7 linked regions of the Homo sapiens genome follow. The protein of the gene in region 2 purifies or fractionates together with the protein of the main gene of each other region. This does not show direct contact. Each region holds a gene or a part of one and is shown on either strand. Other genes may lie near its edges.

Evidence for each region.
Region 1: the proteins of MYH13 (region 2) and CCDC174 purify together in Homo sapiens (affinity purification with mass spectrometry; one large-scale study listed by BioGRID and IntAct). This does not show direct contact.
Region 3: the proteins of MYH13 (region 2) and ZFC3H1 purify together in Homo sapiens (affinity purification with mass spectrometry; one large-scale study listed by BioGRID and IntAct). This does not show direct contact.
Region 4: the proteins of MYH13 (region 2) and YAF2 purify together in Homo sapiens (affinity purification with mass spectrometry; one large-scale study listed by BioGRID and IntAct). This does not show direct contact.
Region 5: the proteins of MYH13 (region 2) and SVIL purify together in Homo sapiens (affinity purification with mass spectrometry; one large-scale study listed by BioGRID and IntAct). This does not show direct contact.
Region 6: the proteins of MYH13 (region 2) and P3H2 purify together in Homo sapiens (affinity purification with mass spectrometry; one large-scale study listed by BioGRID and IntAct). This does not show direct contact.
Region 7: the proteins of MYH13 (region 2) and ITGB4 purify together in Homo sapiens (affinity purification with mass spectrometry; one large-scale study listed by BioGRID and IntAct). This does not show direct contact.

The regions. Positions count from the first base shown.
Region 1 is NC_000003.12:14,661,762-14,666,091, reverse strand, and holds part of CCDC174 (coiled-coil domain-containing protein 174), read right to left. Parts: intron 1,065-4,330; coding exon 969-1,064; intron 456-968; exon of another isoform or gene 30-455; intron 1-29. UniProt on the Homo sapiens protein: Probably involved in neuronal development.
Region 2 is NC_000017.11:10,365,948-10,370,277, forward strand, and holds part of MYH13 (myosin-13), read right to left. Parts: intron 1-4,330. UniProt on the Homo sapiens protein: Fast twitching myosin mediating the high-velocity and low-tension contractions of specific striated muscles.
Region 3 is NC_000012.12:71,653,529-71,657,858, reverse strand, and holds part of ZFC3H1 (zinc finger C3H1 domain-containing protein), read left to right. Parts: intron 1-557; coding exon 558-974; intron 975-4,330. UniProt on the Homo sapiens protein: Subunit of the trimeric poly(A) tail exosome targeting (PAXT) complex, a complex that directs a subset of long and polyadenylated poly(A) RNAs for exosomal degradation. The RNA exosome is fundamental for the degradation of RNA in eukaryotic nuclei.
Region 4 is NC_000012.12:42,161,452-42,165,781, forward strand, and holds part of YAF2 (YY1-associated factor 2), read right to left. Parts: intron 315-4,330; coding exon 162-314; intron 1-161. UniProt on the Homo sapiens protein: Binds to MYC and inhibits MYC-mediated transactivation. Also binds to MYCN and enhances MYCN-dependent transcriptional activation. Increases calpain 2-mediated proteolysis of YY1 in vitro.
Region 5 is NC_000010.11:29,523,025-29,527,354, forward strand, and holds part of SVIL (supervillin), read right to left. Parts: intron 4,033-4,330; coding exon 3,937-4,032; intron 1,692-3,936; coding exon 1,448-1,691; intron 1,004-1,447; coding exon 427-1,003; intron 1-426.
Region 6 is NC_000003.12:189,988,119-189,992,448, forward strand, and holds part of P3H2 (prolyl 3-hydroxylase 2 isoform a precursor), read right to left. Parts: intron 921-4,330; coding exon 789-920; intron 1-788. UniProt on the Homo sapiens protein: Prolyl 3-hydroxylase that catalyzes the post-translational formation of 3-hydroxyproline on collagens. Contributes to proline 3-hydroxylation of collagen COL4A1 and COL1A1 in tendons, the eye sclera and in the eye lens capsule.
Region 7 is NC_000017.11:75,723,629-75,727,958, reverse strand, and holds part of ITGB4 (integrin beta-4 isoform 1 precursor), read right to left. Parts: intron 3,266-4,330; coding exon of another isoform or gene 3,256-3,265; coding exon 3,177-3,255; intron 765-3,176; coding exon 682-764; intron 556-681; coding exon 454-555; intron 309-453; coding exon 104-308; intron 1-103. UniProt on the Homo sapiens protein: Integrin alpha-6/beta-4 is a receptor for laminin. Plays a critical structural role in the hemidesmosome of epithelial cells. Is required for the regulation of keratinocyte polarity and motility.

The sequences.
Region 1 (4,330 bases), on a different chromosome or scaffold from region 2:
GGCTCAAAGGTTTCCATTCTCCCTTTCTTTCTTTTTTTTTTTTTTTTTTTTTTTGAGACGGAGTCTCGCTCTGTAGCCCAGACTGGAGTGCAGTGGCGTCATCTTGGCTCACTGCAGGCTCTGCCTCCTGGGTTCACGCCATTCTCCTGCCTCAGCCTCCTGAGTAGCTGGGACTACAGGCGGCCGCAACCACACCTGGCTAATTTTTTTTTTTTTTGTATTTTCAGTAGAGACGGGGTTTTACTGTGCTAGCCAGGATGATCTCGAACTCCTAACCTTGTGATCCGCCCGCCTCGGCCTCCCAAAGTGCTGGGATTACAGGCGTGAGCCACCGCGCCCAGCCTCCATTCTCCCTTTCTTATGCCAAGCCAAAGGCTATGTGCTGGATGCCTGAACCTGCAGGACTTGGACAAGGTGGAGTTTCTCCCAACACTTTTCACATAAAAGTTCCTATGGTAAGAGGAATTTATTCCCCTGGATGTTTCAGAGTTATCTCTTAGGTCTTACGTTTTAGAGTTATGTCTTAGGTCTTAGGCCCTGCTGAAAAATCTAGTTATAAGGCCCTTACTTCAAAAATGCAATGATACATAAAGAAAAAGTGAGTAAGTTCTCTCCCTAGAGCCACTTGTTTGTGGGATAATCAAGTGTATATTCTCAAACCACTTGTCTCCACAAAGCCTGGTTTGCTGGTTTCGTTTGGGTTTATTCTGTTACTCTGTTGTCAGACATCCTTCCAAGTAAAAGAGACAGCTCTACTCATCCACCAGTCAGGTTGTTCCCCAAGTGTGGATTATGTGTGTATGTGCATGCTAACCACTAAAAAGTGCTTCAATCAATCAATCAATCAATCAATATCTCCTTACTGGAGCAACAGAGATCATTAATTATAAAACAGCCTCCCCTCACAAAACAATCCCTGTGGCTGCATTTCAGACCTTGGCAGAGCTCTGTATACCACACACACTTACAGTCTCCCCTGAAGATTTTTATCCATCTCCAGCAGATCTGGCAAATCCTTTCTCATACAGCGCCGGGAACGCCCCAAAGAGTCCACGTAATCCACCCTGAAATGAAAGCAAAAAGATGTGAAGAAGGACTTGTACACATGTACAAGCCCCTAAGTCAGGGAGTAGGTGAACAGTGAAGGGGGAAGATAGGCCTCACTACCAAGAAGAGCCCCCAACCTCAGAGACCACTACCACTGATAGGAATATGCTTTTTAAAGCTGACACACAATAAGCTCATTGTGCCCCTTATTAAATATTAGTTTTAGAAACTGTTAACAATAATTTTGATCATTTATGCCTTTGATCTCACAGATAAATCACCCACACGGAATTTTGCTGCAGCATCTACGAACTTACTTTAACCTAGTTGAGACAATTCCAGACATTTTATCAGTATCTTAATAACTTTGCCTTGTGCCTGAGATTCTCAACTTGCTCATTTCCTCACAGTCTTCAAGTCTGACTTTTTATTCTTTCTCTTATTTCCTCTAATTGGTATAATTCTACCCAATGTATTAGCAAACTCTTAATGTAAGAAATGCACAGTATTTTTCAGAGTTGGACTCTTCTTAATTAGGAGGAAGCCAAACACCATACCTCTCTCCTCATCTTTGCTCAAACTAGACAGTGGTCAGACAGCTAAGCCAGGCAGATAGCAAGGCAAAGTGAAATATTCTGACTTCCTACAATGGAAAATACGGACAGATGTTCATGAAAAACATCTCATTTGTATTATGACGCAACAGATATTTTACTTTTTAAATTATGGGCAGAGAACCTCCTAGAGCCTTTAGCAGGGTACCGAATACACAGTAAGGTCCAATAAGTACTAGCTGGCAGACCAATTCAAGGTCAGATTTGGCAGGTATGTGGCTTTGCTTTTGTTAGCAATTTTTTTTCCTCTCAAGCAATGCTGATTTCAATTGTTAGTTGTGATTTAAAAACTGAGTGTTTACTCTAGTACTGAAGCTGATTATCACAAGAAATAAAACCTCCAACTGCAGCAAGCAGTTTCTTTCTTCCTTTTTTTCCCCCCAAATGGATGGGGGAAGAAAACCATCTAGCCAGATGGTCTGTGTAATTATTTACAGTATCTTTACGGAAAGATTTTCTACCACCTGGAATTTAACTATCAAAAGGATTTTACAAGCAATTACAATTCTGGAGCTTAATTTAAAAACAAAAAAATGTGTCAGAACTGCTTGCAGAGCGTCTTCCTTCACCATATGGTGGCATGTGACACCTTCAATTGCCCTCCAAACTCTTCAAATCACTAGCAAATTGCTTGTAATCACACAGGCATTAATAAGCAAAAATTTTTAAAAAGACATTAGACCTTTCAAAGGAGATGAGATTTCTGCTATGAAAAGCAATCATAGACCATTCTGTTTCTGGAGAAGGCCTCCAAAACATACAGATCTCATTAAATAGAAGAGGCAAGACAGTAGTCAGCCACGGCTCCATCTAATCAGCAATCACCCACTGAGCAACCCCTGCAGGCAAACAAAGCTTTCCCCAGGCAAGGAGAGTAATACAAGAGGGCTAACAGCCATGCCATCTTCCAAGGGTCTAGGGAAGTTAAGGCACACACCCATGAAACGCTTATTAACAACACTGGGTACGTAAAGACTACCAAAAGTTTGCTAAAATCTTTTTCTGATAATGAGGCCTAGTATGTGTCAGTAATAAATAAAAGGTAATACCCGAAGAGCAGGAAGTATATTAAGTGCTACCTGACTTCAGATGAGGGAGCAATCACTTAGACATTAGAAATGATAGGCCAGGCGTGGTGGCTCACGCCTGTAATACCAGCACTTTGGGAGGCCCAGGCAGGAGGATTGCTCAAGCCCAGGAGTTCAAGAAGAGCCTAGGCAACATAGTGAGACCTTGTTTCTACAAAAAAAATTAAAAACTGAGGCAGGAGGATTGCTTCAGCCCAGGAGGTCGAGGCTGTGATGAGCCATGATCATGCCACTGCACTCCCACCTGGGTGACGGAGTGTGGAGACCCTGCCTCAAAAACAAATAAATAAAAAAGAAAGAAAGAAATGATGAAGAAAGACACCAAAAGAAGAGACTGCATGTTCTTCTCTTTTGGTTTCTTATAGCTTGCAGGCTGACACCTGTTCCAAATGGTATCAAACTATTTAGATCTAAGTTTTTAAGACAGTAGGTAAAAAGATACCTGTTTTATCCCAATGAGAATGTTATTTCTAAACCAACATGGACACCCTCAGTAGAATGAAGATGCAGTTTCTCTGCCATCCACAGTAGCTGGGACTGCTCTCTTCAGCTCATCAATGACTGCCCACAAGGCCAAAGGCTGACAAAAGATGAACGCCTGCTACAAAGAGTCCTGAGCAGTTCCTAACAAATGCCCACCACAAGGAGGACATTTGAGCCTTGAAAGGAGGATAAGAAGAATCCCAAAGGCAAGAGGATGGGTTCCCAGGAAATTGTCAGAGCATCAGTACAGCTCTCAGCAATTTCAAGCACTGCTGAACAGTTTCCAAACAATAATATCTTAGGTAGAAAAAAATCATTGTAACAGAATTCCCATTCTGGTCTCTCTACTTATTGATACAAAGTCTCTTTAAGGAAAAGACGAGTTTGGTTCTTCTATCATTCATCTACATATAGGCAAAATTCAGGAAAATGACAATAATAAAAGTTTACAAAATGCCTGCTTATACTCCACAGGCTGCACTTTCTTGTGTAGCCTGGAACACTTACTTCTTGAAGGGGGGCGGGGGGGTGTTAAAGCAAAGGGCCATGGGAATGAGGCATTATAATCTCTATTTTATAATGGAAGATCCTGAGCCTCAAAGACTAAGGAACCTGATTAAGATCATACAGCCAGTAAAAGGTGCAGATGGAACCATCCAAGGCCCACGAGTCCACACCACAGTGCCAAACAATGTCACAGGCGGAGTAAAACACACTGTGCCACCTCTGCCGGCTTCCTTCTCCTAGATGACAGCTCTCCACCATGTCAGAACAAGAACACGGGTAAGGCAGCAGCACAGGTACAAAAGGAAGGCGCTCTGCCCTCACTGTTTCATGTTAGTGAGCCAGGCAAGCCAAGTCTGCCAGGCACTGGGTTTCCTTCGGCCTGGCACAGAGCTGGGCACACAGCAGAAGCCCAGTCAGTATTTGTAATTATATGTAATTATTGTAATTATTGTAATTATGTCTTCATTTGAGCTACTGTTTTTACAACTATAATAACCTAATCCAACCTAACTTAAAGGGAAGTCTCAAAAGAACACCCAGGAAGAATAAAGAGAAATGGCTCGATAACAACCCAACAAAATCACTCCCAAA
Region 2 (4,330 bases):
AACTATCTCCCTTTGCTGCCTTTCTTGCTCTTCTCTTTATGTATTTTTTCCTTCTTTTATGTAATGTATTGTCCCTGCTTAGAATGCAGAAAATTCATCTTAAAGTCCTAGCACTGATCAAACCACTTAAGCTCTCTGGTCCACAGCCTCTTCCCACTTATAAGGGAGAAGCCAGCCTCACTCCTGTCTAAGGTTCCCGTAAGTCCTGTGTGGACTGTTCCTCTTCTCAGAATTTGCTTCTCTCATTCCCCCTCGGCACCTCTTCCCTCTACTCCACTACCTATTTTCCTCAAGTCTCTTTCCTCTTTCCTTCCCTTCTCTCCTCTTTTCCTTCCCACTTAATTCTATAACTGACATAAAATGGAGTCAAGTCATACACACACACACGCACACCCACACATATCTCTCCATATCTCTCTTAAGAAATAAATCTGTTTTTTTTTTTTTTTTTGAGATGGAGTCTTGCTCTGTCTCCCAGGCTGGAGTGTAATGGCACAATCTCGGTTCACTGCAACCTCCACCTCCCGGGTTCGAGCAATTCTCCTGCCTCAGTCTCTTGAGTAGTTGGGATTACAGGCGCCCACCACCACACCCGGCTAATTTTTGTATTCTTAGTAGAGATGGGGTTTTGCCATGTTAGTCAGGCTGGTCTTGAACTCCTGACCTCAGGTGATCCGCCCACCTTGGCCTCCCAAAGTGCTGGGATTACAGGTGTAAGCCTCCATGCCCCGCCTGAAATACGTCATATTTTTTGAATAAGGTCTTTTATGTCCTCTTTTTATAGTGGGAAAGTTGAACATGTTATAGTTCTCTCCCCCATCTTAGCCTTTATGAAATTGCTCTCTTTATTGGTAACTGGCCATTGTTGAAATATCCTTTCCTGTGATTCTGTGGGGTTCTGTCTTACAGAAAGAAAAGCATCCACTTCCCATGGGGCCTTATTCAGATAAGTTGCATTTTAGTTATACTTTGTTCAGTGGCTCTGCTGAACCATCTGTGGGTTCATGGTTAGGTTTTCATAGTAAGGGACTGGAATTCAAATGCAGCACCCACAAATAAGACTCTTGGCCTGCAGCCATCATGCTGGTTTAGAGTCTCTCAGTTACCACCTGGAGGATGAGAAAGAATTCATCCACATGGCTTTCTTCTCTCATTTCTTTGAAGATAGTCCCTAATGTAATGGCTTAGGTGGATTTCGCTACAGCAGCGGTTCTCAAACTTTGTGGTTTCAGGACGCCTTCGCACTCTTAAAACTAAATGACTGAAAGCCCCATAAGATTTGGTTTATGTAAGTCATATCTATTGATATTTACCATATTGAAAATTAAAATTGAGAAATTAAAAAATATTTATTCATTAACTAAAAATTACTGTCAAATTCATTACATTAACATAAACATTTTATTTTATTATTTTATTGAGATGGAGTCTCAATGTGTCATCCAGGCTAGAGTATAGTGGCGCAATCTCAGCTCACTGCAACCTCCACCTCCCGGGTTCAAGTGATTCTCCTGCCTCAGCCTCCTGAGTAGCTGGGATTATAGGTGCCCACCACCATGCCCAGCTAATTTTTGTATTTTTAGTACAGACGGGTTTTCACCATGTTGGCCAGGCTGGTCTTGAACTCCTGACCTCAAGTGATCCTCCCGCCTCAGCTTCCCAAAGTGCTGGGATTAAAGGCATGAGCCACCGTGCCTGGCCAACATAAATATTTTAATAAAAATTACCATATTTTCCAAAACAAAAAGACTAGTGAGAAGGGTAGTGTTTTCATTTTTTGCAAATCTCTTTAATGTCTCCTTAATGGAAGACTGTTGGATTCTCATATCTGCTTCTGTATTCATGCCATTGCTGTATGTTTGGTGAAAGTAAATATAAAATATTTAGCTATGTAATTCAGAAAAGGAAAGAGTATTTTAGTCACCTTTTCAAATAATTGTGAATTTTCTTCTCAGATACTCTACCAAAACTTGACAAGTGGTAGTTTCTTAAAGGCTAGTTGCAATGCGGAATCTGAAGCCATATCAATAAACATTTTGTACTCTGTTACATTATAATCCACTAGTCTGTCTTGCATTTTGAGTGGATCTTCTTTTCCCATATGTGAATTTCATACAGTGGTTGTTTGGAAAATACTGGTTCACTGAATTATATAGTACTTCCAAATGTGGACACATTTTCTTACACAATATTAAAAAAATTACAATCATCAATATCACCAGTGTGATATCATTTGAAAATTCTTTCAGTACTAGGAAGTTGTCAAGCTAATGGTGGCAAATACATGTTTTCCTGTATGCATTCTCATTTATACTTGAAGGCTCAAAGTTGTGATTTATAACAAATGCTGTCAGTTTTTTCCTCGAGACGACAACCACATTGTTCCTTTTGGAGAACATGTTTGCCAAATATCCAAGTCTGAATAACCATAGCTTGTCTGCTAGTTGGTCTTTTAAATAAAAATGGTGCTTTATGAATAAAATGGCCAGTTCAGCTTGCAACTCACACAAATGCACATGTGCTTTTCCAGGAGACAACCATCAAACTTTGGTGGACTTCCCATTTCATCACATAAAATTGTTAATGAAACTTTTTAGTGCAAGTGTATGGTAGTGAAGAATACAGTAATTACTAATACAGTTTGGTGCGGTGCCTTGATTTGTAATAAGGTACCAGCCATTTATTCATCCTTGCTTTTGCATCACTCATGCAGTGAAAATGGCAAATAACAGCTGGGTATTATTGTGAAAGAGTTTTAGCCTCAAGTGCCTCCTAAAAAGTTCTTGGGACTCTACAAGAACCCACAGACCACACTTTGAGAATGGCTGCCCTATTGCATAAGGGAATCCTGACTGGTTACAGGTTTACGACCTTATAATATGTAGCTTGACTTAGCGTTAAGCATGATACCCAAAAGTGTTGGAAGATGATTTACTTCAAAACCCTCTGCAACATAATCTCTATGGCTGGGACCAGGGAATCTGATTTTTTGATAAGGTCCTCAGAGAGATGTTTGGGAACTACTGATTTAAAGCATTACTTTGCTTGTATGAAACTACTCTGTTTTTCTAAAGCCAAAACCATGGCACAGTCTCATTGCTTGTACACAAAATAATTTTAGGCAAATATTTCTTAATTTAATATTTGTATGCTTATTTTAAAGCCTATTACCTTATTTTATCAAAATTTGCCATCAATTATAACTTCCACAAATAAAAAAATGCAGCTAATTTAAACTGCAATGCTTCTTTCATAGATTGTAATATGCATCCTCATTTCAGGGATAAATTTGTAAAAAATATAAAAAAATCAGAATTGATGGAAATAGGGTAATATTTGTTTAACACTTAGGAAGCGTGCTACATCCATGTATTCTATGATATAAATCAGTGTTTGTCAAACTTAAATGGGCATATGAATCCTACTGTGAATATTCACTAGGTCTGGAGTTGGGTTTGAGCTTTTAAATATCTTACAAATTTCTCAGCTAATGCTGATACAGCAAGAATATAAGGTAACTTTAAAAACAAATAAGAAAAGAAAATGAATCAATGTAAATACAAATATTAAGTAAATTGACAGTATTGGTGTTAACATGGCTATTGCAAAACTTGTGATGGCAATAGGAGAATAAAGTCTGAAGTCAGGGAAAGGCTGCCATAGCTGATAGTTGAGCCATATTTTTAGTCCTCCTGGAAAAACAAGGCTTTTCCCTGTGGGCCTCACTGACAGTTTTCAAGTAGAGATTTTTTCTCCCTTCATTTACTCTAACCGTGACTCAGAACCCAGTATCTCCTAGTAGTATTACCTAGATGATGTTTGAGTTATCCCTCCATATTCCTGCAATGGTGCATCTAACCTAGTTGGATACTTTTAGGCACAACTCTTTTCCCTTTGATAGGCCAAAGATTCTTCTTGCTTTAAATTAAAATCTGGCTCTCCATTTGTTCTCCATTTGAACAGCAGAAAGAGTTCAAACCTTCCTACGTGACAACTCTTCACCCTTTTGATGGCTGTTCTGTGTTCTGCTTAGCTTTATCTTCTCCATGCTAAATAGCCTCAACTTCCACTGGTTCTTCTATGATGTGCTTTTGAATCCCTTACCATCTCAGTCACTCTTCCCTGAACCCACTCCTGTTAATCTTTTAAAGTGTGATATCCAAACCACATGTCACCCTCCACTGGAGTGTGCCCTCACCTCTCTTGACCTAGGTGTCATGCTTGAGGTGGTGATTGCCTGTTGGCAGCCACGTCTCACACTGCTGACGCACCACTCCGTGTCGAGCAAAGCCCCTCAATCCTCTCCGTGCATGCAGTTGCTAAGTCAGAT
Region 3 (4,330 bases), on a different chromosome or scaffold from region 2:
CACCACCACGCCTGGCTAATTTTTTAATTTTTAGTAGAGATGGGGTTTCACTGTGTTGGCCAGGCTGGTCTCAAACTCCTGACCTCAAGTGATCCTCCTGCCTCGGCCTCCCAAAGTGCTGGGATTACAGGCGTGAGCCACCGCGCCTGGCCCCCTGAAGTGTAAACTATCCGCATCTGTGACAAAGCATTCAGTTTCTCCCCTCTTCCTTCAGAAAATAATCTCTAACATACAGCTAATTATGGACTTTCCTGGCACAGAAGGAATGATGCTATAACCTAACTAGGTGGACTGTCTGTGGATACTACTGGTAATTATGACACTAGTGATTTTGTAAGTGGACTGTTTATATGGTACTTACTAAATTCAAATATGGGCACGTAATGAAAGTGGGCATTAGCTGCACATACATTAAATGGAATTTAGTAATTTAAAAATATCGATTCATTTTTCTTGAAAAATTAAAAAGGGAGAAAATTCATCTATAATCTAAGTTTTTTTGTTAAATTTAACTGTGGAAAATTTTTGGAAACTGGTTTCCTTAATATGCTGTTCAGCCAAAAGTTTTGGAAGGTCTCCATCAAGAAAACAAAATTATTCATCAAAAAATGAAAACTGTGTGGAAGAAACTTTTGAAGATTTGCTTTTAAAGTATAAACAAATACAGTTGGAACTAGAATGCATCAATAAGGATGAAAAACTAGCATTGAGTAGCAAAGAAGAGAATGTGCAGGAAGATCCTAAAACATTGAACTTCGAGGACCAAACTAGCACTGATAATGTCAGTATTACAAAGGATTCAAGTAAAGAAGTAGCTCCTGAGGAGAAAACACAAGTCAAAACTTTTCAGGCATTTGAATTAAAACCACTCAGGCAAAAATTGACTTTACCAGGAGATAAGAACCGTTTGAAAAAAGTTAAAGATGGAGCAAAACCACTTTCCCTGAAATCCGACACTACTGATTCTAGTCAAGGTAATGGAATTAAATATTTCAGTTAGTAATGACTCTTCTTCCTCTAAAGTAGTAACTACTTGTTTTGGCAGTGTACTTCATTGAAATGATTGTAATTATCTGTAAATTCTTTTGTACTTTCTATGTAGACATTCATATCATTGAATAATTACTAATTTTGTTTACTTTTAGTCTTTATTTATTTATTTATTTTTTGCCTGACATTCTGGCCTCTATAATAGAATGTTATACATAAGTGATAATAGTGGACACCTTTGTTTCCTAATTTAAAGAAAATGGTTTTGACATTTACCATTAAATATGATGTTAATTTTTTTGTAGGTATCCCTTATCGGGTAAAGGAGGGTTTTACTCCTATTCCTGGTTTGAAATTTTCAGCGTGAATGGATGTTGAAGTTTACAAAATCTGTTTTCTTCATTATTGGGATGAGCATCTAATTTATTTTAATTTGTTAGTGTAATGAATTATATAATTTATTTCTAGTATTAAACCACCCTTGTATGCTTGCGTTTAATACAGTTTATGATATACCATTTTTAAATCATGGATTTGGCTTGTTTTTTCTTTTCCTCTTTATTAAGATATAATTTATATACAGTAAAATTTATCTTTTAACATTATAAATGAATAAGTGTGTAGTTCTTCAGGTTTTGACAAATGTAGACAGTGGGTAACCATCACCAGCTACCATTAAGATACAGAATTCTTTCATCAACCTCAAACAGTTTCTCCAAGTGTCTTTGTAGTTATCCCGTCCCTCAGCCCTTAGTTCACCTGGTAACCACTGATCTGTCCCTATAGTTTTGCCTTTTCCAGAATGTCACACTAATGGAATCATACAGTATATTGCCTTTCATTATAGCTTCTTTCATTGAGCATAATGTGTTTGAAATTCATTCATGTAATTGTATATGTCAGTAGTTCTGTGTATCCCATCATACTGTAGTTCATCCATTTCCCAATTATGTTTGGGTTTTTCCAACTTTCGGCTATTACAAATGAAGGTTTGCTAGTGTTTTGTTTAGAATTTTTTATGTGTTCAGAGCCTGTAATTTCCCCCCCCTCTTTTTCCTTGACAGTTTTTAGTGTAAGGTTATAATACTCAAATTAGTTGGGGCTGTTTTCATCTTTATTCTCTGTAATAGTTTAAGATTGGAAACATTCTGAGATACTTGGTAGATCTTGCTGATAAAAGTGTCTGGGCCTGGGTGGAGTTTTTTTCTGAGAAAGTTTTAATCTAACTTCGTGTTTTCTATTTCTGTTAAGACAGTTTATGTAAACTCTATATTTTTTGTAATGTGTCTATTTCCTGTAAGTTACAGAAGTTATAAAAATTGTTCTTAAGAATCCTTTACTTTTTTATCTGTAGTATTTATAAGTTGTACCTTTTTTTTCCCTGCTCTCTTCTTTAATTTACCCTGAAATAAGTACATAAGTTTTTAAACTCAGTTTTCAGCCTCTCTCCTATTAAGATCATTTTAGGCCATAAAGTTTGACTTTAGTTCTGTCTCAAGTTGGGTTATTTAACTTTTTTCATTCATTCTGAATATTTTCTAATTTTTATTTTTCATTGACTTGTAGGCTGCTTGGAAGTATGTTTCTTCTAAACATGTAGGTTGTCTAGCAGTATTTTTTATTGATATCTAAGTCAATCATACTGTCAGAAAATAAGATTGCTATGATAACCAATCTTTTGAAATACTTGGAGACTTCCTTTATTGTCCAGTATGTAATCAGTTTTTTGTAAGAGTTCTGTGTATGTTTGAAATGAATTTATAGATTACTTGAGCTTTTTGTGTTGTTCACTTTTTTTATTTTTTGATATGCTTGATCAGTTACTAAGAGGAGTTTGTTAAAATTTGCCAGTATGATGATGGATTTGTGATTTTTACTTTTTGCTTTAAATACTTTGAAGGTGGGTAATTGAGTCATTATGTAGTGACTTTATCTCTGATGTTTTTGCCTAAAAGACTATTTTGTCTTATATTAATAGCCACATCATCTTTCTCTTTATATAATTTCCCACTCTTTCAGTCTTTCTGTATCCTCATGTCTCGGATATTACTTGTACATAGTATAGAGCTGGTTTTAATTTATAATTCAGTATGACAATCTTTGTCCTTTAGCTTGAACGTATAGTCTACTCACATTTTTTATGATTATTGACATTTGGTTTTATTTCTTCTTCTTTTTTTTCTTTTTAGGCTCTTATTTTTCTTCACACAATTTTTTTTCATTTGCTAGTTTGGAAGTTGGATACTAAATTTCTGGTCTTATATTCCTACCAGTGTTTAAAGTTAATCAGGAACCTTACTCTTTCCCCGAAATACAAAGAATGATATTTGCTTAGCTTTGCCTATATATTTAGCACTTTCTTGGCTCACTCTTTGTATCATGTCTGGAATTATATATGTATAAATATATTCTCTGTGTGTGTGTGTTTTAGATAAGATCTCACTGTGTTGCCCAGGCTAGAGTGCAGGAGTATGATCATGACTCAGTGCAGCCTTGACCTCCTGGGCTCAGGTGATCCTCCCACCTCAGCCTTCTGAGTTGCTGGGACCACAGGCATGTACTACCATGCCCGGCTATGTTTTAAAAATTTCTGTAGAGACGGGGTCTCAGTATGTTGTCTAGGCTGGTCTCAAACTCCTGGGCTCAAATGATCCTCTTGCCTTAGCCTCCTAAAATGCTGGGATTACAGGTGTGAGCCACCATGCTCTGTGCTTAAATACATTCTTTAGACTTTTTTTTTAAAAATGTGTTTTTGCTGGGTGGAAAACGATTTCCGTTTACTCTTTTTAAAAGATATTTTCCCTGGGTTTAGAATTCTAGGTTGTTTAATTATATGCTTTTTGTTTGTTTGTTTTTGAGACAAAGTCTTTCCCTGTCATCCAGGCTGGAGTGCAGTGGCACTATCTTGGCTCATTGCAACCTCCGCCTCCTGGGTTCAAGTGATTCTCATGCCTCAGCTTCCTGAGTAGCTGGGACTATGGTACATGCCATTGCGCCCGGCTAATTTTTGTATTTAGTGGAGCTGGGGTTTCGCCATGTTGGCCAGTCTGGTCTCAAACTCCTGGCCTGAAGTGATCCGCCTGCCTTGGCCTCCCAAAGTGCTGGGATTACAGGCATGAGCCACCACACCCAGCCCCTAATTATATTCTTACTGACAATATTTTCTGGCTTCCATTGTTGATTTTCAAAACTCATCTATCAGTCTTAATGGTTTCCAATTTGAAGATAATCTTTTTTCTTTGGTTGTTTTAAAGATCCTTTTTGTCTTTGATATTCTGTAGTTGAACTGTGTGATGTGCTGATTGTAGATTTCTTTTTATGTATCCAGCTTGGAATTTGT
Region 4 (4,330 bases), on a different chromosome or scaffold from region 2:
TTCCTATGTATCTTTCAAACTCAGTAAAACCTTTCCTGATACCTTATAATAAAGGAGACCAAATATTTTACTTCCACTTTGTGTATATTAGTATGTCAAGGTTAAAAAAATTAAATGGTTTTATTATTTCAAAAATGTCATAAAACACTCTTCACATTTACCTGGTTTTCTTATGGCTATTCTTTTTGCTAGTTGTTTCCTTTTCACTTTTTTCTTTTTCTACTTTATCTTTTTTCTCTTTCTTTGACTGTGTAGGAGGCACAAACTGCTGAGTAACCTGCTGTGCAACCAACTGGGAGACAGGTCGAGGTTTCCTGTGTGCATGTTAAAAAGAAAGGTATTTTAAATTACAACTTAAAACATAAGTGCTTTATGACAGAATATCTCACATTATGAAAACAAGTTAATAACAATAACTTTCAAGTATAAAAATTCCTCATATGTAAGGTAATTTAAATATACAATTTTAAAGATATGTATCAGTTTTTCCCGTTCAACAAAAATGGAACAAACTATAACAATTAAAATTTATAGTCTAAGATATATGCTCAAACATTAGAATACTGTTACGTAAATCAACATAAGAAATTATTTTAAATGTATATCAAAAAAAATGGGATGTACCCATATAAACATGAGTTCTAAAAATCAAACTTCAAAGTTTTCACTGAAATAATAATTTATCCCTCCTTCAGAGAAGGAAATACCTGACCATTTGTGACAATGGCTATCTGTTCTTTAAAGCTTTTCATTTATTCATTTAATAAACATTTATTATCAAAATTTCTCACTCCTTATTGCTTAAATCCTTTAAGTTTCTTACATCTCCAGCCACAATCTCACCATGCTCTTTTGACCCTGGAGATCTGCCCAGTCTTTTGAGACTCATCTACTTGCTAACTTACTCATTTAGAAAATATTTATTGAGGACCTACTGTAAGAACTGTTCAGGGATATCTGAAATGTTGCCTGGCTTCAACATCTGATGCTGGTACAAGCTTTCACCTGTCCAGCTTTGCCACAGAACTTGCACAACTGAGGTTAAGGTTCAAAATACAGTCTCTAAGTTCTTAAGAGAGAAAGAAGGATATAGCAAGGAAAGAGGCAGAGGGAAGGAGGGAAGAAGTAAGATAAAAATACATTTTAACAGATGCTCTACAAACAATGGTAACTTTATTGCCTGAAAAATCCTCACCCTTTTTTGGTTAGTACAGTTTTTAAAAAATCTTTTTTTCTCCTGTTCCTCTATGGCAAGACAACATAAAAAATAATGAGAAAATATTGTACAATCTAAGAATTAAAGCTGCATGGCTGAGAGAAAATAGGAAACAGTATGTAAAGCAGATATCAGGAGATGGATAATGAATTTTGCTCAGGGCCTAGACAGTCTGAACTACTGAAAGGATATCCAGGACAGATGTCCAATATACAACTTAAAAAATAGGACTGACATAGAGTTTGAGATGTAGATTAAGAGTTGCACAAATAAAAGTGATATTGAAAGTATGGTAGTTAATGGCTGAGGTTAAAAAAGAAAAGGGTTAAGGTGGTGGTTTTCAAATATAAGGTACATCAGAATCACCAAGAAGGCTTGTTTAGCTTGCTTAGCCCTACCCCGCAGGATTTCTGATTCAGTAGGCCTTGAAGTAGAGCCCAAGAAACTGTATTTCTAACTAGTTTCCAAGTTATGCTGATGTCTCTGGGGACCACACTTTAAAAAAAAGCTTGAGGAAATGCAATATATCTGGTGAATACTGTTACTACTATAAGATAAAGTTTGAGATGGAGAGCAGAGTGGCAGAGTGAAAAAAAACCAAGCTGGACAGATAAGAAGGGATCCCATGATTAAAAGCTAAGCAGTCTGATTTTATCCTTAAGTGATGATAAGTCACTGAAGAAATTCAGACTTGAATTTTACAAAGATTACTGGCATTAGTCTGAAATAGAAAGGTACTACACTACAGTAGAAGTAAAAATGTGAGACTAGTGGTCTAATAAATGATCATGTAATCTCTGTACCTAGTGTTGTTTGTTGTTATTTTCTAACCATCAACAAATTTTCTATAGTGGTTCTTTTTTTCTGTTCTTGAGTAGTTGCATATCTTTCTCTTTTTATCCTAGGCTTACCTAAATGTATACTACACAACTATTCCATTTTTATTCTTATTTTAATGTGAAGGTTGATTTTCACTTAAAGATTATGATTTTGTACCTCAATTCTATGATTATTTCATCTGGTTCAATTCTGAGAGAAAAGAAGCACAAAACATAAATGTATATAGTTCAATTATTCAAATAAAGTTCTCTGCTGCTCTCTAGGAGCTAAAGAGCTTTCACTGAAGGTAGGAGGAACACAGTTTATGATGATCTTTTTACAACATCGTAAGTCACTCAACTCCATGCCCTATTAAAAATAAAGCCCTTCTATCTCCAGGTATCTTAAGGTTTGTGATCCCTTTTCTATTTGATGAGAAAAATCAGGATAGGAGGAAATTTTAGAGGTAGGAAATAGTTAACTCAGGAAATAAAGGGCAGAGTATCATTTATAAAATATACCCTTTTATGTTCACAGATTTATCACTCATGGTTTTGACAGTACACTTTTAGTAATGCCAAAGGTTCTGTGATAAGGAGTTGATGTGCACAAAATGGTTGCCTAGTTAATAAATGACTACTGTCTAGCCACTGGCCAACTACAGTCCATCATCTACTTATTCACATATGCCATGATTAGACTGTATTTGTCAGATATGATATTCACCAATTTGGGGATCCCTATGTATCTTTCATAGATAGCCCAAATAGAAGGTATAAGTTTTGCAGTCTGTTGATTTACTATAATGTAAGAAAAGGGGGAACATTTTATTACGCATTAGGACAAAATATTTTTGGAGCTGGCTGACCTTCTGTGTGAGCAGGAGGTCAATACATGTTGGCTTCATATATGCAATTTTCAACTACGGTCTGCCTTCCACCCCCACTGACAAAAATCCCATGTGCTAAATATTAGAGGAATAATATTTTCAGCTTGATCAACTTCATCATAATTTAGCTTTGTCATGTTGGACAGGTAAGATGAAAGAAAGGAAAGAAAGAAAAAGAGTATTAAAAACAATGACATTCTTTACTAAAAAGAGGCAGCATAACTCAAATTTCAAAAGAAGTAATCTGCTTAGTAACACCAAAATATATGGTAAATTGAAGCGATATGGTAAATCTCATCAAAAAAAAAAGGCTGGACTAAATCCATACATATTGTGAATCTGTTGATACTCTGGCTAACAAACGCCCAAAAATCTAACCTAGGAAAGATTTTATAAAAAACCACCTGTTTACAACCAAGCGTGGTGGCTCACACCTGTAATCCCAGCACTTTGGGAGGCCAAGGCAGGCAGATCATTTGAGTCCAGGAGTTCGAGGCCAGCCTGGGCAACATAGTGAAAACCCATCTCTACAAAAAAAATACAGAAATTGGCCAGTAAAGGTACGCGCCTGTAGGAGGCTGAGGTGGAAAAATCGCTTGAGCCCAGGAGGTGGAGGTTGCAGTGAGCCACGATCACACCACTGCATTCCACCCTGGGTGACAGAGTGAGACCCTGTCTTCTGGAACAAAAAAAAAAAAAAAAAAGAAAAGAAACTACTTGTTTGATAAATTTTATTGCACATTTACATGTGTCAGGCACTAGGTAAGGAGATTAACCATGAACAAGACAAACATAGGCCCTGCCCTCATGCGCTAAAAATTAAAAACAAAAAAACTGTGTGTTGTGATAGAGAAAACAGGAGGAGGAGTTATTATAGACAGAGAGGAAATAACTTCTGTCCATGTTTAAATGGTCAGTATACCAGGAGAAACAGGTATCACAATGGACCCTTTTAATAAGAGAACAATGAAACGACTTCATTAAGCATTTTATTAAGACTTTAAAAGAGAGTAAACCCAATTTCTTATTCTATAATAACTTGGTTTTAAAGTTATCTACACCTCGAATGGCCAAAAGGTTTTTGTTTTTGTTTTTGTTTTTGTTTTGAGATTGAGCCTAGCTCTGTCGCCCAGGCTGGAGTGCAGTGGCGTGATCTCAGGTCACTGCAAGCTCTGCCTCCTGGGTTCACGCCATTCTCCTGCCTCAGCCTCCCAAGCAGCTGGGACTACAAGTGCCTGCCACCATGCCCGGCTAATTTTTTTTTATTTTTTATTTTTAATAGAGACGGGGTTTCACTGTGTTAGCTAGGATGGTCTCGATCTCCTGACCTCATGATCTGCCCGCCTCAGCCTCCCAAAGTGCTGGGATTACAGATGTGAGCTGCTGCGCCCGGCCAGGTTTTTTTT
Region 5 (4,330 bases), on a different chromosome or scaffold from region 2:
GCCCACGCAGTGTAGCTTGCTAGCCTGCAAAACAGGCATGCAGGAAGAAGCACTCTAGCGATTCAGAGACTGGGGTCAAGTCTTTCCTGAATTCCTTGTGCTTACCCAGCCTGGACCTTTGGGGTCATCAATTTCTAAAAGGGGCCACCAGAACTAAGCAGCTCAGAAGGCCATTGTGTGAGTGACCAAAGTCAACAGAAACTCCATGAAGATGTGTGAAAGCTCTTCCAGTAGTTTTATTGCTGAAAACTTGATGTATCCTCTAGTCAGATCCAGGGAAGAATAGGATTCCCGCTGAACTTTTAACCAATACTAGCTGTAAACTGCCTATAGAACTTTGTTAAAAGCCATCATAGACACAGGACAAATCAAGCAGAAACTAAAACCCAGTGGCTTTCTAAAGCTTTAGGGGCACTGGTCACTTACCTCTTAGTGAAAACTTCCTTTTCATAACATTCTCCACCTCCACCTTCTCTTCAAAGGGCAGCCTGTCCCTCAAGTCCAAGTTTCCTTGTGCATTCATTTTAGCCATGGAAAATTCCTTCGGTTCATCCCCGAGGTGGGTGATGGGAGGGTTCGCCCGTTCCAGGCTTCCTCTTCTGGGAACAGCATATTTAGATTCCTTATGGCTGTCTCCTTCCCTGGCTCGGTTCAGGATGGGGTAGGATGCTTCTGCTTCCTCAAAGGACCCATACTTCTCCATCCCACTGTCTCGACCTGTCAAAGCTCTCTTGCTTTCTGTCTCTCCATATTCTCTCAACATTCCCTTGTTCTCGCTACCCTCTACCAAAGGCTGCCAAGCTTGCGATTTCAGAATGCTTCTAACTGGAGAGTCCGAATTTTCTATTGAAGAAGAAAACTTATAGTCAGTGGCACTTGCATTGTGGTCAAGAGGTGGCTTTGTGCGAAGATCTCCGGCATACATTGGAGCAACCGTGGATGCTACGGTAGACACTGATGTGTTCACGGCAGGTGAGAAAGGAATGAGCTTTCCACTCTGCACCTGGAAGGACACAGTTAAAAATTAAAAAGCTGCTTGAAAAATATCATCTATATAAATCCTGGTTTATGAATTGACAGAAGCTGAAATACTCGATTTGATGCAGTTTCACTGTTTCTCTTAGTGGAAAACCATTCCTGGACATAGTTATATAATACGTCTCATTAAACAAAATCCTCTGGGTGAAACACAGTTGGGCATACTATTTTTTTCTCTCCAAAATGGACTCATTCTAGATATTTCAGCAAGCAAGGTATGAAAACAAAAAAAGAGCAACATACTTGGTAGAATTCTCATTTTTAGGAAGAAAGCTATTACCAAATCACCTACAGGTAGCAGTTTCCTGGTAGAGCACCTTAATTACATCATTGACCTCAGAGGAATACTGCAGTGCTATAATTTAAGAACACACACACACAAACTGCAATCGGACTATAGCACACCCACCTGCTCCACCTCTCCCAGTGTGACTGGCTGAGTTTGATAGCGAGCGTTCATTCTCCTCTGTCTCGTGTCTATTCTGTTCCGGGTAGAAATCGCTTTTGAGACTGGCTGGGACAATTTGTTAAACAAGGCCAACTTTTCGGCCAAGCTTAGAGTGGAGGAATCAGGTTCTCCTTGCTCAGCAAGCTCTTTGCCCTCATTTGTCTGGTCCTTGGCTAAGGCCTTTTGGTGAGCAGAGGCCTGCAATCTGAAAAAAATAAAATGTCAGCAACACATATACCAACAAACAAAAGCACACCGCTAAGTTTCTACGTTAACTTTCTGCCAAGTGTCACATCATTTTGCAAAGGGCTTCTTTTTCCCTAAGCACGTCTAGGACAGAGGCAGGCAGCTGTTCAGCTACTCAACAAGCAGAGTCGGCACAGGACACTTAGCATCATCACTTCTACAAAGAGCAGACTTTGAGCTCCGAATTATTTCTACAAAACGAATTTCCTGTTTAAGACATTGAAGTCAGCTTGGCTATACCTTATCTTAGACAGAGAGGCGGCATTGTTAGTATCGTAATAAGTAGAATGAAAGGGAGTCACAAAGTATTACCTACGGTGTATTTAGACCTTATCTAAAGATATGGTTCAGAAGGTGGTCTTTCATTTTAAATAATTAGGAAACGATATAGTCCTCTGTCAACAACATAACAGAAGGTCTTGATTTTTACTTGCTAAAGACAAATGGCTTAATTTTTAAAGAGTCACTGCTTCAGCTTAGCATTTACTCTCATAGGTTCCTACCAGTTTTCTAAAAGGTACTTAAATCTGCAATTTCCAGTAACCAGAGGAGTAAAGAAAATTTCAGGTGATTATAAATCCCTCCAACTGGCCAGGTCTGGTGGCTCATATCTATGGAAGGCCAAGGCAAGAGGATCACTTGAATTTAGGAGTTGGAGACTAGCCTGGGCAACATCGTGAAACCCCATCTCTACAAAAAATATAAAAATTAGCCAGGCTTGGTGGTGTGCACCTGTGATCCCAGCTACTCAGGAGGCTGAGGTGGGAGGATCGCTTGAGCCTGTGAGGTAGAGGCTGCAGTGTGCAGTGATGAAGCCTGGGCGACAGAGCAAGACTCTGTCTCAAAAATAAATGAATGAATACATAAATCAGTAAATAAATAAATAGCTCCCTCCAACTTCCAGCTAGAAGAGAAGGAAAGCCTGAAGTCTTCACGGTCAATATGAATCTCTAGGGGTTTGTAATGCACTATATCTTCTGTCCCTGACCGATCCAATTGTCAGATCTAGTAAAGGAGATATTCTGCCTTGATTCTAGTGAATCCCCAATGCACAGGCTATCCCAGGCCAAAGAGTAGCCAGCTTCCATATTCCAGGTGTATAATGAGGCCAGTGACAAAAAAGCCACCTGAGCCTCAGAGTCCTCCGTGGACCTCGTGCAGTAACCAGGAGGGCAGGGAAACCCACTTCTCCGGGAGGGCCCTGCTGTGGGTGTACCAGCTTTATCCCGGCACTGCCATTATTTTTAGCTTTTGCGGTTTGGCTCATATAACAGTAAAATGAAGGGATATGACCTGATGTGAGGACATAATTTTAAAGCACCACAATCTGAAACACGACAGTAAAACATCTACGTTTAGACACTACAAATTGTTATTTTCCCAGTCCCAAAATATAATGGCATTGACTCTATAAATTAGAAAGAGGGAGGATTGTTTTCAGTCTGTATTTGTGTCTACAGGTGTTTGAAAAAGACTGGGTCTTATCAGCATTTCAACATTCAGGTTAATGTCTCATTTTTCTTTTTTTTTCTTTCTTTTTTTCTCTTTCTTTTTTTTTTTTTTTTTTGAGACAGAGTCTTGCTCTGTCACCAGGCGGGAGTGCAGTGGCACGATCTTGACTCACTGCAACCTCTGCCTCCCAGGTTCAAGCGATTCTCCTGCCTCAGTCTCCCAAGTAGCTAGGATTACTGGCACATGCCACCATGCCCAGCTAATTTTTGTATTTTTAGTAGAGACAGGGTTTCACCATGTTGGCCAGGACGGTCTCAATCTCCTGACCTCGTGATCCACCTGCCTTGGCCTCTCAAAGTGCTGGGATTACAGGCATGAGCCACCGCGCCTGGCCAATGTCCCATTTTTCTATTAATCTTTATTAAGTGCTATAACAGTATTTAGATGAAGAACAAAATTTTTGAGGGATGACCATTATTATGAAAAACAAACAAAGCAACTGGATACGTGAGTTAGTGTGATCCTAGTTCTAACACATAACATATGCAGAGAGACAAAATGTTTTCCCACGCACGCCAGCATGTGGTTATCAGCACCTTGTGCTATGACAAAACAAAATGCCACGCATTCTGGAACAACTCACGGCATTGACTTGTTTGTCAAACAAACGACAGACATTCAAGACTTTAGGATGCATCTGCTGTTCGGCACCTTTGCACCGGGTGCCGCATGCATCTGTATCTGTCCAGTACCTGGCAGGCTGCACAGCGCTCCTAGCTACAGTGGGGCTAGGAAGTCTCGCCATTACAGGGTGGGTGCCCCCAGAACACGAAGCGGGGATAGGTTCACTTTAAAAGCAATTGCCAAAGAGGAAACATTCATAAGGAGAGAGAAGAAAAGAAGCATTAAGGACAGCATAGTTTTAAATTCAGAAACGTTAAATCAAAAATTTTAACAGAATATTTTGCTAATTATTTTTGGGGAGAAAAAATCACGAAAGAACTTCAAAAGCAAATACAAACTCAGGAAATAAGAGATAGTGGCTACCCAAAGCAAATGGGGTAAGAATAGGTGTTCAGAGCTGGGAGGATTTACTCTGTCTTGAGAATACATGTCTTGGTGTAAAAAAAATAATAATTCAAAAAA
Region 6 (4,330 bases), on a different chromosome or scaffold from region 2:
GGTAAACTGGTACTTCAATGCAAAGTCCTTCATAGAGTCCCAGATGTTCTGGAGGAAGCCCCTTAAATCCTTCACTATACAATTATAGCACATCCTACAGTAGCAAACTACTAAAAGGAACTAACAAGGATGTTTCCAATATAAACTTTTCATTATAGAAATATTTAGCTATTACAAGGGAAATTTTAAATGTCTGTATGCCTTGTTTTCAAATAGTTCACAACATTGTATTTCTTCTAATGGAAATTTACAATATACGTATGTGTGTATATATATGTGTGTGTGTGCATGTATGTGTGTATAATAAATACATACACACACACACACACATATATATATACTCTGAGATGACTCTGATTTTTAAAAGGAATGATAAAAATTAAGCAACTCTCTCATCTTTGATTCACTGTTTATGACTTGAGCACGTGATTCACTGTGTGCCATCAACGCCAGGATAATAAATAATGTTTTGTTTTTGGAAAGGAAGAGGATTTTGCAAAGTTCCTTTTAAATTCAGTTCTAAAAAAATTAAGTCTAAAAAACCATGCAAAATGTCAATCTAGTATAATTTTCAGTAAATTATCACAGCATTAAATTTTGTACTTTGCCCATTGGTGATATCCCCTTCTGCTCTTCTTGTCCTGCAGCTCAGGAGAGAAGAAATGCATAAATTCCTATTGCTTTCATAATAAACTGAAGAAGTCAGAAAACTCAATTACAAAAATGTGATGTCTGTAATGATGAACCACAACCCCCCAAGAAGTCTTCACGGATGATCCACGCTTTACCTCGATAGTAGGCAAACTGTAGGTAATCATAGTGCAGAGGAAGAAAATTCTCGATGGGAGAGAGGCGGCCAGGGCGGGTGGCAAGTTCCCTCACACATTCATGCTGACAAACAAGCACCTGCATGTAGTGATCTGGAAGACAAGAGCCAATACGTGTGTTCCTCCAGGTTGCTGAGTGCCCAAACGTCAACGTCACAGCCACAGTTACACAGGTCATTCCTCACCTCACCACACTGGAAGACCAAATTATTATAATCCTCACTTCCGGACTGCAAAACCTTTTTACAAAGAAAGTAGGTGACTTGCCAAGGTCTCCTGGTCAGCGATCACTAGAACGACAGTAGATTCCGAATCCTCCAGCTCACAGTCTGTTCTCTACACCTCACTTTTCCCTTCCCATGTACACTTTTTATACCCCACAGTCCACTTTACCCCACCTACACCCAGCTGAATGTCAGTTTTCATATTTAACAACTTTGGGGTCTCTCTTTGGATATCTTGGATGGCTCGAAGTGCCCTGGAATCGGGAATGGAAGTTCAGATGCTAGTAAATGTTAAGGAACAGTTTGGAAAAAGAAACCACCATGGGCATGGAAAATTCAGGCTGAGAAGTGAAGCAAAAGTGCTCTTTTTCTTTCTTAACATTTTCAAGCCAAATTGTCCTAAAAGAGAAATAAAAACTCTTTTTTTTTAAACCTATTGGTCAGAAACCTATTCTATCCAGTTATAAATTAGTCTATCGCCTAGACATAGTATATTCTAATACTAAGTACATTGTATATTCTTTACCAGAGACTGGTAAAACAGGCAGAAGGATGTAAACTAAAGGAATGAGCATCTTATTTCCTATTTCTCTTCACTCCCCTTTCTATTGCTCCCATTCTTCTTGCTTGAGAGTCCTGAAGTGTTAGGGTCTTCATGCCACCTTTGGCTCTGGACTCTATTTTATCAAAGCCTGAGATGAGGAAACACAAGTGGTGAATGTCCCAGAGAAGAAAATGCCTCCTACGTTTCACCTTGACTGATTTTTACAATGAAGATGGATGTATTTTCCAGCAAGAAAGATTCATTCATGGCTGCGCTGAGTGGGTTCTTTTGAGAATGATGATAAAATCATTTGATCTCATAGCTGTGCAATTTAATTTACCACAACTGCCTTTTTTTCAAAAGGTTCTCTGTTTAGTCTGAGTTTGGCTTGGATCTTGGTGATTTTGCAGAGGGACCCCAAAACACAACAGGAAGGAAACGTGCATTTTCTGGTGTGGGGGAATGTGCCAGTTTTGTATAACTTGGCTAACTGAATCATTTATAGCACAGCTAATAGAATCCCTAAAGCCCATTGGTTATTAACCCCAGTCAGGGGATGTGAAGGAAGAATGAGTTCTATTTATTTGATTAGCATGTTAGAAATAAATAACCAGCTGTTTCATTTCTTAAGAAAACAAAAATAAACAACCTTCAACTGTTTTCTCCTACTCAACTTACCATTTGCATTTCTATTTACTTTCTAATACACATTCCTTTTAATTCCAAGTGACAAGCAAAAGGTAAAGGCGAAAGATACCCACCGAGAACTCAAAATCTGAATGGAAATATTTTTTCAAAGCGGATACAAATAGCAGCAAAATAGGAGTGACAGAAAGGTATCCTTTAGGGTTTCATAGCAGAGCTAGTAATAAATAACTGCATTCAGCAGCCATTTGTATTTTTCCCGAACTGTTAATGTCTAACTCTAAAATTCAAATATTCTGATTTTCTAATACATTTGCTATTTAAAAAGCCAGTTTTATACCTAATTTAGGACAATTTTGAAGCAGACAAGAATTTACATAGTGAGAGCTGTCATATTACTTTTATTAGGTATATCCCTTGCCTCCTTTCTATCTTAAATGACATTGTGCAATTAATATGTTTTTAATAAGTTTGAGTCTTAAAAATTAAAGAACCTGAGTTATGAGATCTCTATTCTTTTCCAGCTACCGACATGCTGTGGTGACCTTGAGCAAATCACTAAATATTCATCTGTGGGAAATCGTCGGTCCATTTTCCTAAACCAGATCTAGGACATTGGCCAAAACTGTTCAGTGGCCATTGGTGGAAGCAGGTGTAGAGGCGAATGTGGGCGTGAAAGCAGGATGCATATCTCCCCACAACCACAACACAGTTAACTATAATAAAGGAAGAATCTGCCATTCCCAAATACAAGATCAAGTGTAGAGAAATAGCAATTAAAATGTGAACCACACATAAAACTGACATTCCAAAAATTTAGGCAACTGGATCTGGCAGAGATCCAAAAAAATAAAACTTTCAGGAAAATATCCTCAATAATTGAGATTGCTGTATTGAATTTAGGTGAACTGAGTTGATTTTGGGTAACTGGGTGTGTCACAAATTGGTCATTCGTCACATTAATTTTCAGTCTACTTCCTAGTCTAATTTTTGATAGCTATACCCTAATTGTCTCTATAAGAAACCTTAAAAATAATTCTTAACAATAATCCTAAACCTACATTCTCATAAACATGGAGTATTTAACCATTTTAATCCCTGCTATGAGATAGATGGATATATCATCTCCTTCCTTCATTCATTCATTAATCAACCCATTCATTTAACCAGTATTTACTAAGTAAGTATCTACTATTTGCCACTCACTCTTCTTAGGCACTGAAGATTGAGCACTAAACAGGACAAGGCTTTAGCCGAGAGATAGAAGAAAACAACACTTTGAAGATCTGTAAGTGGAAATAAGCATGGCATATTTAAGGAATCAAAAAGCAGGAGAGAGAGTGAGAGGGAGAGAGAGAATGAATGAAAACATACACAAGTGCCCAATCATGAAAGTTCTTATTAAAGAATTGGATTTTATTCCAAGTGGAGTGTAAACCATTTGGGGTGTTTAAACCAGATCTGTGAGCAGAATTTTGTTTTTTTAGAGACTGCTCTGTGGGCATTTGGAGCAAAACCAGAACAGGACATGAAGAGCAACAAGGAGGCAATCACTGTTGCTTTGAGCCAGGGTGGTAGCAAAAGGGGTGGAGGGAGTTAGGAAGTGTTCAGTGCTATTAGGAGATAACCTCTATCCAAGTTTGGTAAAAAATCATATGGGAATAGGAATTAAGGAAGATGTTGGATTGAAAGGTAACTTGGTTTGAGTTATTAGGTGAGTAGTGCTTTTTGTTTGTTTGTTTGTTTTTCCTTTGAGATGGAGTTTCGCTCTTATTGCCTAGGCTGGAGTGCAATGGCACCATCTCGGCTCACTGCAACCTCGGCCTCCAAGGTTCAAGTGATTCTCTTGCCTCAGCCTCCTAAGTAGCTGGGATTACAGGCACCCACCACCACACCTGCCTAATTTTTTATATTTTTAGTAGAGATGGGGTTTCACCATGTTGGCCAGGCTAGTCTCAAACTCCTGAGCTCATGTGATCCACCTGTCTCAGAATCCCAAAGTGCTAGGATTACAGGCATGAGCCACCGCGCCCGGATGAGTAGTGCTTTTTAGGAAGACTGAAAGCACTGGAAGTTGGGGAGAGCAAACT
Region 7 (4,330 bases), about 65 Mb from region 2:
TTTCCTTCTGGGTGGGTGCAGCTGTCCTGAGTCCTGGCCTCCCAAGCAGACGCCCACCTGTCCCCCTCCTGCCCTGCTGTCCTCCACTCTGGCCCTGCCGTACCCAGGTTCTGCCCCATCTTCTTGAGGTTGTCCAGATCATCGGACATGGAGTTGGAGAAGTCCATGAGGATGTACAGGTCCACGGGGCTCTCCAGTGGCTCAAACACCTCCAGCTCAAAATGCCGCTCCTCACCGGGCCGCAGACGGACCCGCAGGCCTTGGGGGGACATCTGGCTGCGCCGCAGGGTGGTGTCAATCTGGGTCTCCTGCAGCCAGTGGAAGGGGACAGCTGGCTAGAGGGTCACTCCGGAGGCCCGATGGGGGCCCAGCCCGGCCAAGGGGCACTATACACCCCCATAAATAGCCAGGCTGAGCATGGGGAGCCCCCACCCCAGTCCCCACACCAGGCACCTCTGTGATTTGGAAGCTGCTCTCCATGACCACGATGCTCTCCCGCTGGCAGCCCGCGGCCAGCAGCTCCGCCTGGGTGTTGCAGCGCCGGTCCCTGAACATCTGGCCAGAAGGACAGGGGGTCACTGGGGGCAGCACCCATTCCCTGGCTGCCCCAACCCTAGATTCATTTCCACCAGCTATTCCCGACCCTTGCCTGTTCCACACCAACCCGGGCCAGGTCCTCACCTCGTCTGTGCAGTAGGCGCAGTCCTTATCCACACGGACACACTCCGTGCAGCTCTTCACTGGGGCCTTCTTGCAGCGGTTTGCTGGGGGGACAGATGTGGGCACATGAATGGGGAGGCGCTCAGCAAAGGCAAGCACTTTCCCACCTGCACCTTCACCTGGAGAGATGGGGATTCCCTCCTTATGTTATTTATTTATTTATTTTGAGACAGAGTCTCGCTCTGTTGCCCAGGCTGGAGTGCAGTGGCGTGATCCTGGCTCACTGCAAGCTCCACCACCCGTGTTCACGCCATTCTCCCACCTCAGCCTCTGGAGTAGCTGAGACTACAGGCGCCCGCCACCACGCCCGGCTAATTTTTTGTATTTTTAGTAGAGACAGGGTTTCACCGTGTTAGCCAGGATGGTCTCGATCTCCTGACCTTGTGATCCACCCGCCTTGGCCTTCCAAAGTGCTGGGATTACAGGTGGGAGCCACCGGGCCCGGCCTTATGTATTTATTTTGGTTTGTTGTTGTTGTTGTATTTTTATTTTGTTTTACTTTATTTTTCAGACGAGTCTTGCTCTGTTGCCCAGGCTGGAGTGCAGTGGTGCGATCTCAGCTCACTTCAACCTCCGCCTCCCAGGTTCAAGTGATTCTCCTGCCTCAGCCTCCCGAGTAGCTGGGATAATGGGTGGGCACCACCATGCCTGGCTAATTTTTGTATTTTTAGTAGAGATGGGGTTCCACCATGTTGGCTAGGCTGGTCTCGAACTCCTGACCTCAAATCATCTGCCCGCCTCAGCCTCCCAAAGTGCTGGGATTACAGGCGTGAGCTACTGTGCCCAACCTGCATTTCAATTTTATTTAGTTTTGAGATACGGTCTTGCTGTGTCGCCCAGGCTGGAGTGCAGTGGCATGATCACAGCTCACTGCAGTCTCGACATCCTGGGCTCAGGCAATCCTCCCACCTCAGCCTCCCAAGTAGCCCAGCTAATTTTTTATTTTATGTAGAGACAGGGGCTCCCTATGTTGCTCAGGATGGTCTCATATTCCTGGGTTCAGGAGATCCTCCCACCTTGGCCTCCCAAAGTGCTGGGAATTATAGGCGTGAGCCACTGCACCCAGCCGTTCCCTATTTTACAGAGGCCAGGGGTATGTGATCTGCCCCAGGTAGCACAGCTAGAAACAAGCTGTGATTTCAAACCTGGGACTTCCCACTCAAGCCAGAAGGACAGAAGGTGGGGACTGAGACAGTGGCACTGGCACACTCGGTGCTGGCACACCCTGGCCACCCCCTGGCCTGCTGCCTCCTCAGGTCCAGCCAGACGGTCCTCAGCCTTCCCCATTACCTTTGATGAGCTGCACCTAGCACCCTTTTCAGGTACCTCCTCCATCACAGCTTGTGCCTCACGGCGAGACCACTGCCACATGGCCTGTCTGTCCTCTGAGCCCCTTCTAGGGTGAAGGGAATGGTGTCTTGTTTATCACGGTAGCCCTAGCACCCGGCACACCTGGCACACAGTGGGTCCTCAGTAACGAATGAAGTAAAACTCTAGATTTCCCTTTGGCTCTGCTCAGTTAAAAATCACAGTGAGGACCTACTGTGTGCACCTGGTGTACACAGTAAGAGGTCTCCTGGGCTTCAGGCAATGGTGTGCTGGTCAGTGTTTAACAATGGCTGTGGTGGCCAGTGCGATGGCTCACACCTGTAATCCCAGCACTTTGGGAAGCCGAGGTAGGAAGATTGCTTAAGCTCAGGAGTTTGAGACCAGCCTGGGTAACATAGTGAGACTGTCTCTACAAAAAAATTGTTTTTAATTAGCCAGGCATGGTGGTGCATGCCTGTGGTCCTAGCTACATGGGAGGCTAAGGTGGGAGGATTGCTTGAGCCTGGGAAGTTGAGGCTGCAGTGAGCCACGATGGCATCACTGCATTTCACCGGGACGACAGAGTGAGAGCATGTTTCTACATATACATTGAATTAAATAAAAAAATAACAACGGCTCTGGTCTCTGGTGCTTGACGTGTAGCGTTTGCCAATTTCTGTGGTGTAAACATTTCTGTCGTGGTCTATTTCAAGCCACCAGCAGGACCCCCTCTAACAGACAAAATTCAAGTGGTAGGAGCTGGCTCCAGTGATTTGTCCACTAGTGACACTCAGAGAGCAAGTGACACGTCAGCAGTGCCTCTCTTCTCCAAATTCCTATAACCCTCTTGACTACACCTCTGGGGCCTCAGTGCATCCTCTGGGTGCCTCAGTCCTGGGTGGGTGTCTCCTCTTTCCTCTAGACACAGCCTCCTTCGCTCCTATTCTCAGGCCCCGTGGTCAGGGCTCAAGCTTCTCTAGGCTGAAGAGCTTGGAGCCTCAAGTTTTCCAGCCCTGAAGGTGGGCAGTGGTCAGTTGCTGAATGGCCAAGCGTGTTTAGGTGAGACACCGTGAGATCCCCGTGCAAGGGCAATGCCTGCCCAAGGGATGATCCTGCCAGGAGGGGGCTGCAGGGCAACGTGGACTCACCCAAGGTCCCAGAGAGGCTGACGCTGATCAAGGCTGCCAGGAGCAGCCTGGCCCATGGGCTGGGGCGTGGCCCTGCCATCCTCTTCCTCCTGCAGAACAGCAACAATTGACACATGAGGCCTCCACAGCCATGGTCGGTGCCGTCAGCTTCCTCTCGCTGCACAGCTGTGGGAACTGAGGCTCTGAGCACCAACAATGTGACCAAGGGCGCCCAGCCGCCAGAGGCAGGGCCCTGGGCCTCGGACTCCTGCCTTTTCCGCTGCCCTGTTCCGTGCCATCCCTGCAGTGGCCTATGCCCTGCCCCGGGAGGCCCCCTCCAGCCCTCAAGGACTCTGGTTTGCGAGTTTGTCCCAGTGCCAGGCCTCTCAGCACTGGGCTCCCTGAGGGCAGATGTGGGTTTATTCTTCTTTGCCTTTTAGCTCCCAGTGAGCCTGGGTCAGGCTTGGCCATGACAGGGTCATCCAATGAGGGTGCCTCCCTGAGAGGGGGCCGCAGCTCTGCCTCCTGCTCCTTCTGTCCTGGCCCACTTACCCTTTGGTGAGGGTGGCACAGCCGGGAGGAGAGGGGCCCCTCCCAATATCTGGGGCCTGGGGCTGGGCCACAGCTGCCCGCAGTGGCTTACTGCACCGGGTTGGGTTCTGCAGTGACTGCCCGGCCCATCAGGGTGGGGTCTGAATCATCTGCCCTCCCCTGTACCTCTGCCTGCCCCAGAGTTAAGTTTTCTGGGCCCCTGAGCTGTTCACCCTTTCACAAGTTAGCCCAGAGTGAGACATGCACACACACTGTGGCTCCCCTCAAGGCGTCCCCAGCGGCTGTGGGTTCAGTATTAAACCATCCTAAGTCCTCAGCGGCCTTCAGGGCAGGACTGGACATCCCTGAGGCCCTCTAAGAGATGCTCAGCCTGAAGCCTGGACAAGAAAAGAGGCTGGCGGCAGAGCCATCCAGGCCTGCAAGGCCGGGGCAAAGGTGAGCACCGCGCCTCTTTCTCTAGGGCCAGGTCTCCCAGGGGCCCAAGCCTCTGCCCTGCCCACGGGCCCTCCCCATTGAATCCTGTCTCAGCCCGGCTTCTGGGGCAGTGGCCACCCCAGGGTCTGGGGGCTGGGGTCCCCGAGGTGCTGGAGAAGCCCTTCTCAGGCCAAGGGCAGGAAGGCGTA